Homo sapiens: one gene and its partners. The protein of the gene in region 3 purifies or fractionates together with the protein of the main gene of each other region. This does not show direct contact. Each region holds a gene or a part of one and is shown on either strand. Other genes may lie near its edges.

Region 1 (3,500 bases), on a different chromosome or scaffold from region 3:
CTCTTTTTCTTCTGTCAGAGGACCATTCTTAGTGGCACTGGGGAAATCTTGGCACCCAGAAGAATTCAACTGCGCTCACTGCAAAAATACAATGGCCTACATTGGATTTGTAGAGGAGAAAGGAGCCCTGTATTGTGAGCTGTGCTATGAGAAATTCTTTGCCCCTGAATGTGGTCGATGCCAAAGGAAGATCCTTGGAGTAAGTATTGGAAACGTTTTTATTCTGAATGAGTTTTAAAGTAGAATAATTTTTTGATATGAAAGTCTTCTATCACTTTAACTTTTTATTTTCTTCTTGCTTTATGCCCTCTCTGCTTTCGGCACTATTTATTATTGTAAAGCAAAACTAAATAGACCTCTGTGGAAATATATCGGACTCATGGGGTTAGGTTGTCTTTGGTTTTGTCTCACTGAGTGCTGGCTTGTCTGGTGAAAGTCTAGCCACTGTGGGGAAAAAATAATTTACTGTGGGTGTGCTTCCTCAACAGGAGCCTGTTTGCTCAGGAATGAAGAGGTCGCATAGGACCACACACATCTGAGTTCTTAGAACTGACACCTTCACTGTTTTAAATTAAATTCCATAGCTTTTATAAGAGCAGTATTTCCCTACTTGTCAGAGTTCAAGCACAGGACACTGATTTCATGAAATATATAAAACATGAGGTTTATAAATGATATATTTTTCTTGAATACATACAGTGTTTAAAAATATAACCTCAGTTTTATGAGAGTGCACATGTGATGGAAAAATAATTTTTTTTCCTTTTTTGCAAAAAAAGGAGTAATTTAGGAATCAGATACAGTACATAATAAATAATGAATACATGAATTTCTTGCTCTGGAATACCTAGTTTCCAATGATAAAGTAAGGGTCAGGCATACTTTATGGTGACTAGGAGCTGGAATCTGATTTCAGAAGAAGCCAGAGTACCTGGCTTCACACAAAAATTGGACATGGCCCTGCTGAACTCTAATATACTCTCAATGTGAAAATATGATAATGAAACTCTAATTATTGTTAATTGAGAGAATAGGTAGTATGAATTATTGAGTAGTCTTAAGATATCTCTTAGGATATCCTTAAATATGTCTGAAACGTTGAAGACACTTAAAATTATATATATGTCACCTGAAATATTTCTAGATTATTGATTTGTGTAATATGTTGGGAACAAAGAAGTGGAATGGTTCAGACTGTACCTTCCCAAATGATAACAAATAATTAATAGAATATTCATTAATACTGTTTTAGTGTATCAAGGTATTCTATAAATGTTAGAATAACAAAACAAAGTGAAGTTAGAGTCTTAGACCCAAATAAAGTTCTGGGAAATGGAAATCTCATACTCATTGCCTTGGAGATGGGCCAGAACTTCAATAGCTTGTCTAGATTGTATTTTAGTTATTTGATTACCTGTTAAAGATTTCTCTCAAGGATGGAAAGGGAAGAATATTCTGGAAGCCTTGGGAGATAGTTTGATTCAATATACATCTTCTACAAATGTTCATGGTGAATTTTTTGGATCTAAATGTCTGTTTCTTCCCATTGTCCTTCAGTAGTGAACTGTGACAATTTCTATGGCTAATAAGTCTATATTATTTCATTTTATTTTGATATTTTTTATAAAAGAAAATAGTTCACTCAAGCACAATTAGAAAACACAAAAAATTTAAAGAATAAATTTAAATGACCTAAATATTTACCAATCACAGATAATTACTGTTAACCTTATGATGTGTTTTTTTCTAGTTTGCTCTTTATAAGTAATGTGTTTACAAAATTGTAATCATGCTTTATGTATATGATTTTTTGTGATAAATATTATAGAAAGAGTATTCACTACTCATCCAAAATTATTTTAATGGCTCCATCTTTCTCTCAATCCAAAGAAATGATTTCTTGTAAAACCAACACCCAAAACCTCTTTTACTAACTAATATCTGGCCCAAATCTTTATAACTTGGTATGTTTAACCATTGGGCCATTGCTGACTAGAATATGGTCCAAATTTTACACATTCGAGTCTGTGCTTAGTGCCATCTTAGCTGATTTCCAAAAGCCTAAACACGTGTTAAACTGATTGGATTACATTATATTTTTATTATATTTTATTACATTATATACATTTATATACATTATATACATGTAATATATACAACTATATATAATTATGTATATTTTATTATTTTTATTTATTTATTTATTTTTTTGAGACGGAGTCTTGCTGTGTCACCCAGGCTGGAGTGCAGTGGCGCGATATCGGCTCATTGCAAGTTCCACCTCACGAGTTTATGCCATTCTCCTGCCTCAGCCTCCCAAGTAGCTGGGACTACAGGCACCCACCACCACGCCCAGCTAATTTTTTGTATTTTCAGTAGAGACGGGGTTTCACCGTGTTAGCCAGGATGGTCTCGATCTCCTGAACTCGTGATCCGCCCGCCTCGGCCTCCCAAAGTGCTGGGATTACAGGTGTGAGCCACTGCGCCCGGCCCCATTATGTTTTGTTATTAAATTATATATATTATATTATTGCTTCTAAAATGCACCAAAGTATAGGTTTGTTTTAATTTTTAAATGCTTCCTCCTTCCCCCAGAACTTTTGCAGATAATACCATAAAACCTTGGTAAGTTAATGTTTCCTGACACCCTTTGAGAAGAAGCAGAAAGTTTTGTAGCAAGCATTTATGAAATGCTTACTTTATTCACTGTACATATAATGTATAAATAACATAGTGATCATTCTTTAAGTTTATTGATTGGCATTTGTAAAGAACACACGTCTAAATATGCATCCGTTTAGATGATTTGTGAGTCTGTTCTTAAGTATCTCTTGTTACTTTGAGGGAAAGCTCAAGACAAAAATGAAGTATGTGTGCCTACTTTGGATTAGCTCTACAGGGATTTACTGGTACAGATATTAGAATAAACATTTATGTATTTATTGTCATCTTCTTTTTTTACATCCAATTACCTTTCTGTAACAGGAAGTCATCAGTGCGTTGAAACAAACTTGGCATGTTTCCTGTTTTGTGTGTGTAGCCTGTGGAAAGCCCATTCGGAACAATGTTTTTCACTTGGAGGATGGTGAACCCTACTGTGAGACTGGTAAGATCAGGGAGCCATTTGTTTCTTGAATTTTGAATAAAGGTAAAACATTAACCCTTATATTACTATAAAGCTCAAGAAAATATTAGGCAAAGTTATTTTCTTAATTGTTTTGGAAGCATTTAATGCTGCTCTAAGCATGTAGAAAAAACTATGTAGATTTTTTTTTTTCTTTTGAGACGGAGTCTCACCCTTGTTGCCCAGACTGCAGTGCAATGGCCCAATCTCGGCTCACTGCAGCCTCTGCCTCCCAGGTTCAGGCGATTCTCCTGCCTCAGCCTCCCGAATAGCTGGGAATACAGGCATGTGCCACCATGCTCGGCTCATTTTGTATTTTTAGTAGAGACAGGGTTTCGTCATGTTGGCCCGGCTGGTCTCGAACTCCCGACGTCAG
Region 2 (3,441 bases), on a different chromosome or scaffold from region 3:
CCCCATATGTCTTAGCACAGTTGCAGGAACATAGGAGACCCTTAAATGCTTGTGAAATTAAACTATTTAACCAGTTATAAAGTTGTCTTGGGAAAATATTTGGAAGAAAAATACTTACTCACCTATGTGAATTTGCTGTTTCCACATCACATTTCAAAATCACTAATCTATCTACAAACTTATTTAAGTACTAGTTCCGAATATCTTATTTATTATCTTATAAAATCTATAACCTTTATATTAGCCTAATAAGGAAATTCTTCCCACTAAAGCAATGTAAGAAAGAATGTGGGAGGTTTTTTGTATTCTAATTTTTTTTTAGTTCTAGGGTACATGTGCAGGATGTGCAGGTTTGTTACAAAGGTAAACGTGTGCCATGGTGGTTTGCTGCACCTATCAACCCATCACCTAGGTATTAAGCCCAGCATGCATCAGCTATTTTTCCTAATGCTCTCCCTCTGCCCATGAAAGAATGTTTTTTTAAAAAAATCTTTCTCCTTTTTTCCCTTGCTTTTTGTTTTAAGAAAGGATACTGACTTCTGTGGTAGTAAATTGATCTCGAAGAAAGTCAAGGTCTTCCTCCAGGGAATCAAGATTCTTTGTGGCAGTCGATAAATTCTTTTCCAACAATGCCTGAGCTTCATCAATATCATATTCAAGCATTACATTAGCCTGAAGAGAGAAAGTCATGACAATTACTCAATATTTACACAGAGCTTTATAGGTTAGAGTAAAGTGTGGGCAAACTACAGCCCTCAGGTCAAATCCAGCTTGCTGCCTTTTGTTGTAAGTTAAGTTTCACTGGAGCCCAGCTATTCTCTACTCAGGCTTTCATACCACAATGGCAAAACTGAGTGGTTGAGACAGAGACCATGTGATCTACAAAACCAAAAATATTTACCATTTGACCTTTTACAGAAAGTTTGCTGACCCCTTGGTTAAAGAATATATTTACATACATTGTATCATTTAATCCTCAACCCTGCTGAGGCCAAAGTTGTCTTCTTCACAGTTAAAGAAATGAAGGCTCAGGTTTCCTTAGCTGGCATAGCTAGTGGGTAAATGGGAGAATCAGGATAAGAAACCAGTATGTTTAGATACAAAATCCTATCTTTCTACTACCTCCATCGTGAAACTAAATAGTGTTGTTTGTATCAATTTAAATAAATTCTGAGCTTGAGATATGATATTAATTTAAAATTTTTCAAAGACATTTATTATCATCTATATTTGACCAGGTAAAAAAGACAGCTAGCTTTTACCTGTCCCTTCCTACTACTTCTGACAGATGTTAGGGATTAAGACAAGGTAATGTGTCTGTCATTCTGAAGATCTAGTGTTACTGCCAACATTCAGGGATGCATGTACCCTGGAATTGGGAAGCCACACCTTTTACAGCTTTGAACTCTCCCTATCACCTGACTTACCACTGGCATTTCCTAAACCACTTTCCTCATCTCACAAATGCAATTTTAAAATTACTCAAAGGATTGTTGTAAGGATTAAACAAGACAACATGAAAGTATTTGGCACAAAGTAAATGCCAAATAAATACTTATTGACCAAATAATCCAATCCATAATTAGAAAACTGTATTAAAATTCAGATAGGACAAAAATATTCAACATAAGCAAAGACTGAACATAAATATAACAAGAATCCACAAAGAAAAAAAAACCAAAGCAGGGGACCAAAAAAATTTCTAAATCCTTCATTTCAACAAAATGTTCCTGAAATGTGACACATGCACATACTACACACACACACACACACACACACACACATACACACACACACACTGGGTGAAATGACACGCAAAATGAAATGAAAGGGTACTTTGTATACCTGGGGGAAACTGACCCAAAAGTCCTTTGAGCATCCAGGCAAAAAGAACACATCACTCATAGAAGAAAGAAATCAGTTTGCCCTCACACTTTTTGACAGTGATGCTTTACAACAAAAGAAAATGGGGCACTGTATAAGATGCTCAAGGAAATAAAATGTGAGTTTAAGATATTATATCCAGCAAAACTGAATTTCAAGTACAAAGGCCACAGACAAGTTGTCAGCAACATGAGATAACTCAGGGAATATCATTCCCATAAATCTTAAGGCAATCTACTTATCAGACGAATGAGTAACATACAATCAAAATGACTGGATGATGACTGGGGGGACATCAACATAAAGACTATGATGTGCATTCAATATTTACACGAAGAACTAGGATAAATGAAAGATGAGAGAGAGAAAGAGAGAGAGCAAACAGTATATAATGGCTCTGTGCTCCAACAATGTGGGAACAACCTTATAAAGAATGTGTAAGGACAGGAAGAACATATGCAAAAATGTCAGTGGTAACAGTGTTGGGTGGTGTTATTCTAAGAATGCTTTGCGTGTGAATAGTAATGTTGTCTAGCTTAATTCTATCACCCTTGGTATTTCTGAAAACCAGGATTCTTGATATAGAAGAAACAGGGGGGCCAGGCGCGGTGGCTCACACCTGTAATCCCAGCACTTGGCAGGCTGAGATGAGTGGATCACTTGAGGTCAGGAGTTCAAGGCCAGCCTAGCCAACATGGCGAAACCCCGTCTCTACTAAAAATACAAAAATTAGCTGGGCGTGGTGGCACGTGCCTGTAATCCCAGCTACTCAGGAGGCTGAAGGAGGAGAATCACTTGAACCCAGGAGGCGGAAGTTGCAGTGACCCAAGATCACGTCACTGCGCTCCAGCCCGGGCGACAGAACAAGACTCTGTCTCAAAAAAAAAAAAAAAAAAAAAAAAAAAAACAGAGGAACAACTAAAGTGAAAACTCTGTTGTCCTGAATTTGAATTGGAGGTAACAGTATGAAACCATGAGGTACACACATATTAACCTGAACCTTTGCACACAAGTTTATGCAGGTTAGCTATATCCTACTGGTTCTATTTCTCCGGTTGAACCCTGACAACAGATTCGTTCACTTACACTTTGCTTTATGCAGTTTTCTGATTTTTTTGTTTATATTTAATATTATATACATATAGAAAAGTATTCATATCATAAATATATAGCTTGATGTATTTTCACAAACTTAACACACTCATGGAACCAGCATCCAGATCAAGGACAGGTTATCACCAACACCCCAAAGCTTCCTTGTGAACATTTTCAGTTACCACCAGCACCCCCACCGCAAAGGTAACCATTAACCTGACTTACAGCATAGTTTTGCCTGTATTACAACTTTACATAAACAGAATGACACAGTATATGTGCTCTTTTGTGACTGACTTCTATAGTAGGCAAGAATTATGGCTCCCATAACAGCTGTCTCATTCTAATCTCTGGAATCTGTGACTCTGATGAGATATTTACATCATTTGTCAGAGCTGACCTTAATATACAGACTGCCTAGGTAGGCCTAATCTAGTTATATGAGCCCTTAAGAGCAGAGAA
Region 3 (3,500 bases):
CTGTGGGGGGCGGGGGGAGCGGAGTCTTGCGCCATCACCCCGACGGCCTCCCGCGCGGAGGAGGCAGGGGGAGCCGGCTTTGGGGACCCCCAGTTGTGCTATGAGCCCCGATGGGGGTTTCCGCCCCGCGCCAACGGCCTGAGGCTGTGCTGGAGAGTCACGGCGGCCGCGGCGCCGGGAGGACGACGATCCTCTGTGCAAATGCCCCCCCCCACGCGCTCCCTGCCTCCCCCGCCTCCTCTCCGGGGTTTCGCCGTTCCTCCTGCAGGCGCTCAGACGTAGTTAAATGTGGCCTTAAGGACTAACCGATCGCTCTGGTGTTTGCTCTTTCGGCGGAAGTGATAGAGTAAGGGGAACATTAAACATGAGGTTCTTTTGGCGGGGGTGAGGGGTGTCGCGCACGCGACTCTAGTGGCCCTGACTGAAGCCAAGGACAGCAGCCTGTTCCCCGGGAGGGAAGAGTTGTCGATCCGTTGGGGAAACGCCCTCCCGGGCTGGGCTCTCCGGGAAGGTAGGTCGAGCTCCGTGTTTCAGGTGGATGTTGCAGCGCCCTGCAGGCTAGGGGAACCCTCCTCCTCGGTCTAAACCTGCTCCTTCCCCCTTTTATTTTTGCCTGGGAGAAGGCAGCTACAATAGTAATGAGATCCTAAAGCGAAAGAGAGGGATGAAGGTTTGCTTTTGAAAAAAGTAAACCGCCTTTCTCCGGATGTTGACTTAGGAGCCAGGCAATTCGTCGCGTCGGGTCCTCCGATGCTGGCATCTCTGAGAATTTTAAAAAGCCGATATAGGTGCTGGTTAAGCACCTCACGAGCTGAACTCTGGTATCTGTGCAGAAACTAACTTTCATGGCAGTGTCCAGCAGAGGCTGCCTTGGAAGCCAGCTTTTACTTTGACCTTTGGAATACATCGCATGATGTTTTCCAGGCTGACTTACTGCCTAATTGGGTTCAAGTAGCATGATATTAACTACAGTTTATGCAAGCCAACCAGGAACTCGCAGGCAGAAAATTGAGCCTGAGTTCCCCTGTGGTCATAGTCAGTTGAGTTCTGCTGCTGATAGTAGTTTCGAGTCTGAGGGGCTCCATGATGAAGATGGGCTTAGGAATTACACAGACCTGGGTTTGAATTCCTCCTGCCACAAGGAGGTAGGATACGTTTACCTGCCCTTGTGACCTTGGGCTGGTGAGCTTAACCTACCTTTTTGAAGCTTTGTTTCTTCACCTGTAAAACGGAATAATCCTATTTAATCAGTAAATGATGACAAAATTGGTTTGATATGGCCCTCAGTATATGCTGTCTATATGACAGTTTTAGTCTCGGAGACATATCAGGGTGCTTCCAGGCATTACTTTGAGCTCCTCCATGGTTTAGGATAATAACAATATTAGCTAGTGCTTACATAGCAACCACGCTGTGTCTGGCACATTTCTTAAGTGGATTACATGTATCAACTAATTTAGTCCCCACAACAGCACTATGAGGTAGGTATTATTATTATCATCGTCATTGTGCATATGGAAATTGAGGCATACAGGGGTTATCATGTGACCAGTGAGTGGCAGAACCAGGATTCAAACTCAGCCAGTCTGCATACTCAACCTCTACACTCTACTGCCTCCTTTGAAACACCCTTTTTTTCTTAAGATACTGTAAGGAAGAGCTTTTTCTTCTCCAGCTTTGGAGTGGTGCCACCGTAGAAAGAGAATGAGTTTTCTATTATTGAAGACGCTGAAATGAAGAGTGGATAGCATCCTGGTTGGAGATATTAGAGGGCCAGGAGGTTCAGGACCAGGGGCTGTGGATTATCATTTTATGAAGCCTTGCACTGAGTTTGCTTTAGCACATCACAGTGGGTTAGGTTGAAGTGGATCTGGCCTTCAAGGTGCTGGGGGACACATTTTGAGTAAGGAGAAGACAAGCAGGAGCTGCTCAGGCAGTCTGCATCTGCAGCCAAAAAAACTCAACATAACTGGCATGTCTTTAGTATCTGGGACATAGTATGCTCATAGCACCTCATGGATCATCTCACTTAATCATCCCAGCAACTCTTTAAGGGTAGGCCAAGCAGTGCAATGCCACCCCTGTTGTGAGGATGAATCATCTGATTTTTGGAGAGGTTGAGCAACTGGTAGGTGGCACAGCCGGGTTCTCGCACTGCAAAACCACAGGCCCCTTTGGTGGACAGAGATTCCGAGGATTGGATAGTCCATTGGGTCCATGGCCCATTACCAGAATCACGTGAGAGGCATGTAAAATGCAGATTCCTGGGCTCCACCCCAATCACAGGAGTACCACAGCAATCACCAAACTATAACTGAGCTCCCAATTTTTGTACAGTCATGAGCTAAGAATTATTTGTACATATAAACGTTGCAGTCAATTTGATGGTATGGAACACTCTTTGAATCCCAATGACTTGAAATGTTATTCTCCCAAAAAATAAGAAATCCACTTGTCTCGTTAACAGATCTCGTTACAAAAAAAAAATTGTACTCAATATATTCTGAACTTTATCAATAAAAGAATTGTGGAAATGTGTTAGATTTTTCTCTTGTTATAAAAGTCCCTATGTAGTGTTCTTAATTTTGGCTCTTGATAAAGTTTACTATCTGCCCCCTTTGCAGAAGAGGTTTGCTGAAAAGGTGGTTCAGTAGATTGGAGGGTGGGCCCCAGGGATCTAGTGTTTTGCTTTGTTTAAGCAAATGGCAAGCCATATATTTGGGTGGTACTCTCAGGGTCTTTTTAAGTCCTTTTATGTGTTCTGTGCCCTGTAAGTAATTGGTGCCTAGTGGAAATCAGCCTCAACCCAGGAACCTCCATAGGAAGAGAAATTATCCTTGTTACTGGTTTAGTATGAAGCACTTCTCGTCTAGAGTTCTGTATAGCCAGCTGAAATTCTTCGTTGTGTACTCAGAACATGTCAAAGCCTTCTGTGTATCTTGTAGTTGAATGGTCACTCTTAGGTTCTAGATGTCATCTCAGAGATAGAAAGAGCTTTGGGTTGCAACGGTTAGAGCTTTGAGGCTTGAACCAAAGGCGGGGCAGCTGTGCACCCAGTGGCTCACATCAGCCTTTCAGAGCCCAGATCTTTGAAAATGACAGATAATCCTGGAATCTCTAGTTTTTGGCCTGCTGCTTTTCTACCATGCGTGTTTCCTGGGGAATGAACCAGCAGCATAGTGGCTTTGAGTTTCAGAAGTTTTTCCCTCTAGCGTCTTGTGCCTGAGCTAATGAACGGAAGGAATGGTTATAAAATTGGCCAGGTCAAGGGGAGGAGGAGATAAATTCAAGGGGACAAATCCTAGTCCCCATAACAGCAGCCTGTGTTATGACAGCACACCACAGCCCCAATTCCCTCTTTCCTGCTGCTGCTGCACCACCAGCCTCTCAAGGTGGCTTACTCTAGACTTACACAGTTGGCCATCTTTCTTTTTTTTTTTCTTTCCCCATAGCAGTATGAGACTTGTTTCCTTTTTTATTTATTTATTTTATAATTTTTG
Region 4 (3,500 bases), on a different chromosome or scaffold from region 3:
GACTGGGAAAGGATTTAACTGGAAGCTAAGTTGTCTGCCTTTTCTGTTTTGCTTGTTCTATAGCTGTTCAATAGCACATGAGTAAAAGTACACTTCATATTTTCTCTTTACAACTGAGATTTAACCAAGGCTAGCTATAAAATGTTTTCATATTTCCAAAGATCACAATAAATTTTTAAAAGATTGTGGGTATAGCACAGTGCCTGGCATATAGAAGCACTCAATAAGTAGTGGTTGAATAGTTTGAGTGCCCATACTTCCTTTTTGACATGGGGAAAAAATATGCTTTCTTGTGCACGTATAGCTGCCTAAAAAAATAAGCTTATATACAAACATCAACGTTAACTCTGAATCCACTTATTGACGTGAGAATAATTTATTAAAACCCAAAGAATCAACCTTTACAATGACTGTACTATCCTTTTATTCATTTCAAACTAAGTCTACATATTAAAGCAAGATGAATGCAATTTGCTGAGGCTGCTACTTGCAGTTGGCCTTATACCCACAAGCAGCAATCCAAATAAAGACAGGAAGTGATAATAACAGGCTTGAATATAGAAGTTTTGATCACAGTATATTTAAAAATGTAGATTATGGTGGTAAAGATCTATTTTTTATTATATTTCTGGAGAATAAGAAAAAAATGAGACTCATGTATCTTTATGCTCAATTTTAAAATTAATTATTTTAAAGATAAAAATGAATAATATCAATTCTGGCCATGTGAACATGCTCTTAAAACCTGAAAAGACAGTAACTCTGAAAGTCATGCATGCATCTAAACTTTAGAACTATATCATGATGACACAGACCTTTCTTAAAATAACTTTTAAAATTTAATTACAAAAACAACGCAAGTTCATTGAGAAATTTTATAAAACTAAGAAAGAACAAAAATAAGAAAATAGAAGTTGCAGGCTAGGCATAGTGGCTCATGCCTGTAATCCCAGCATTTTGGGACGCTGAGGCAGGTGGATCGCTTGAGCCCAGGAGTTCAAGACCAGCCTGGGCAACCTGTCAAAACCTGTCTCTACTAAAAATACAAAACTTATCCAGGCACGGTGGCAGATGCCTGTAATCCCAGCTACCCGGGAGGCTGTGGCAAGAGAATTGTTTGAACCCAGGAGGCAGAGGTTGCAGTGAGCCTAGATCATGGCACTGCACTCCAGCCTGGGCACGAAGGAAAGGAAAGGGGAAGAGGGAGGGGAGGGGAGGGGAGGGAGAGGGGCGGAAAGGAGAAGGGAGGGGAGGGAGAGGGGAGGGGAGGGAGAGGGGATAGGAAGGAGAAGGGAGGGGAAGGAAAGGGGAGGGTAAGGAAATGGGAGGGGAAGGAAAGGTGAAGGAAAGAAAAGGAAAAAGGAGAAAGGGGAAAGAGAAAGGAAAGAAAAGAAAAGTTGCTATTTAATATCAATTTCCTGAGGGTGCTAGTTACTACTTCTGGTATGTTTCTACATGTAGATAAAATATACAAATACATTAACACCTAAATGGGTAAAGGACTCATCTTGTACAATATCACAGACATTGATGCACACACTTCTTATCAACTGTTTTAAATGTCTAGAAATGTTCTCTAGTAGGTACAGGAGTTAAGCCTGTTATATGGGAATAATTGGTGAGATGTCAGTTATTTTTACCACAATGTTTTAATTTTCTTGGGAGAATTATGTTTGGGATCAATATCTACTGTAAAACTATTATTAAGTAATCATATGCAATAATAATGATGGCTTCTTCATGTAAAACAATGATATTTAACAGTTTTGTTTTAATCTAAGTATCCTTTCTCCTAAATGAGGATGCCCAATATTCATGGATCCATCTGGATGAGGGACCCTTACACCCCTTCCCTAAGCTTTACGGTTCAGCCTGAGTACAGTTTCATAAGCCCTGGTTCAGTGCAAAGGATGAGTCTTTGGAGTCAAAACAGATGTGGTCTATCTGCAAGATCTCAGATGAACTACTTAATCTCCTCTTCAGCCTCAGTGTATATAGTCATTAACGGAGATTATATAACTAAGATAATGCACTGAACAGTGTCAGGTAATCAGTAGCAAATGCCCAGTAAAAGTAAAAAGTGCCTGATTACTTCTCCTTCTCCCTCTTTCCTCTAAGAGTTCAACTCTCCCTCCAGAGAAAGAATAAAACAAGGATTTACTGGGGAAGAAGGTAAATCTGTTTTAATGCATTAAAAGTATTAAATCAATTTAACACATTAAAAATGTTAAAAAGTGGATTATCTACAAAACGTTCAGTTCCCAAGTGAATGACTCACTATGGCTTATCAAACCTCTCAAATAATAGAAATCTTCTTAGTGCCAGGTATCAGTAGAGACAAAAATGCAAAAGCTTATAAAAGAGCCCTTTAGCTGTCTCAGCTTACTCTCAATTAAGAAATCTCAAATTCTCACTAGTGATAACAGTCCAGCTGCCCTTGCTACGAGGTACAAGTTGGTGTGTTCCTTTTTATAATGCCAAAAGATTATTTGTTTTCAACAGGTTTATTAATTAATAATAATACATTTGAAAGAATCAAAAATAATAGCCAGTGTAACATGTTCTGTATTGCTCCTAGTCACTGGAAGGCTAAGAAAAGCTTGGATTCCATTCAAGGGATACTTTAAAGTAACTCCATAAAGCAGTTTTCACATGTACAGTCTCACATGTACTCTCAGGGTTCTGAATGGTTATATCCACTGCATGACACGTAAGTGTCACCTATACAGCCTCAGTAATCAAAGGACCAAGAATGCAGGCATTACCTGAGAGCATGTTCAAAATCCAGACTCCCAGCCCCTGCCCAGACCCATAGAATCAGAATCTGCAATTAAAGGTCCCAGGTGCGCCACATGCCCATGAAAGTTTGAGCAGCAGTGCTATCCAGTAAGTGCTCCAAGGACAGAAATCAATGAAAACAAGGTTAAAATGTACTGTTTTCCCCTCAGGAGCCTCGTGCTGCAGCAATGCTCTCATTACATCACCAACTATGCTGGGAAATCTGCCCTCTGCCTGTGAATGCAGGCCTCACTGCAGACATCTGAGAGGACTAGAGTTGGTTTCTTACACTGTGACCCTGAAAAGCTCCCAGAACTCCTATCCTACTCTTGACAGTAGGAATGAGAGAATCAGCACTATCTCCTAGCAAAGCCACAACCAATGCTTGGAAAGCAGTAAGATCACCTCAGTACTGAACAAAGCCCCTAACAGGAGTACAACTCTGTAGGGTTGCTCTAGCCCTCTTCCCGAAAGAAGGTGGAATTAAGCTAGATCTATGCTTGAGTTGATATTTAATAAGCCCTTTAATGATAGAGAAAATCAGGGAAGGCACTAATACTCAAGAACACTGAATATCTTACAGTGAAATATTCTTATAGTGAAATATTAATATTCAATAACACTGACTATCTTCTAGTGAAAGAGAAAGAGCTTTGGAGTCAGACAGGCCTCGTTAGGAATTCCAACTCCACTGCTATTCAGTGGAAGCCATGGGTTTGTTT

The links.
Region 1: the proteins of ANP32A (region 3) and PDLIM5 fractionate together in Homo sapiens (co-fractionation; one large-scale study listed by BioGRID). This does not show direct contact.
Region 2: the proteins of ANP32A (region 3) and VBP1 fractionate together in Homo sapiens (co-fractionation; one large-scale study listed by BioGRID). This does not show direct contact.
Region 4: the proteins of ANP32A (region 3) and ANXA5 purify together in Homo sapiens (affinity purification with mass spectrometry, with the first as the bait; one large-scale study listed by BioGRID). This does not show direct contact.

What each region holds. Positions count from the first base shown.
Region 1 is NC_000004.12:94,654,442-94,657,941, forward strand, and holds part of PDLIM5 (PDZ and LIM domain protein 5), read left to right. Parts: intron 1-18; coding exon 19-199; intron 200-2,985; coding exon 2,986-3,106; intron 3,107-3,500. UniProt on the Homo sapiens protein: May play an important role in the heart development by scaffolding PKC to the Z-disk region. May play a role in the regulation of cardiomyocyte expansion. Isoforms lacking the LIM domains may negatively modulate the scaffolding activity of isoform 1.
Region 2 is NC_000023.11:155,233,460-155,236,900, reverse strand, and holds part of VBP1 (prefoldin subunit 3), read right to left. Parts: intron 673-3,441; coding exon 534-672; intron 1-533. UniProt on the Homo sapiens protein: Binds specifically to cytosolic chaperonin (c-CPN) and transfers target proteins to it. Binds to nascent polypeptide chain and promotes folding in an environment in which there are many competing pathways for nonnative proteins.
Region 3 is NC_000015.10:68,814,396-68,817,895, reverse strand, and holds part of ANP32A (acidic leucine-rich nuclear phosphoprotein 32 family member A), read left to right. Parts: intron 1-3,500. UniProt on the Homo sapiens protein: Multifunctional protein that is involved in the regulation of many processes including tumor suppression, apoptosis, cell cycle progression or transcription. Promotes apoptosis by favouring the activation of caspase-9/CASP9 and allowing apoptosome formation.
Region 4 is NC_000004.12:121,672,981-121,676,480, forward strand, and holds part of ANXA5 (annexin A5), read right to left. Parts: intron 1-3,500. UniProt on the Homo sapiens protein: This protein is an anticoagulant protein that acts as an indirect inhibitor of the thromboplastin-specific complex, which is involved in the blood coagulation cascade.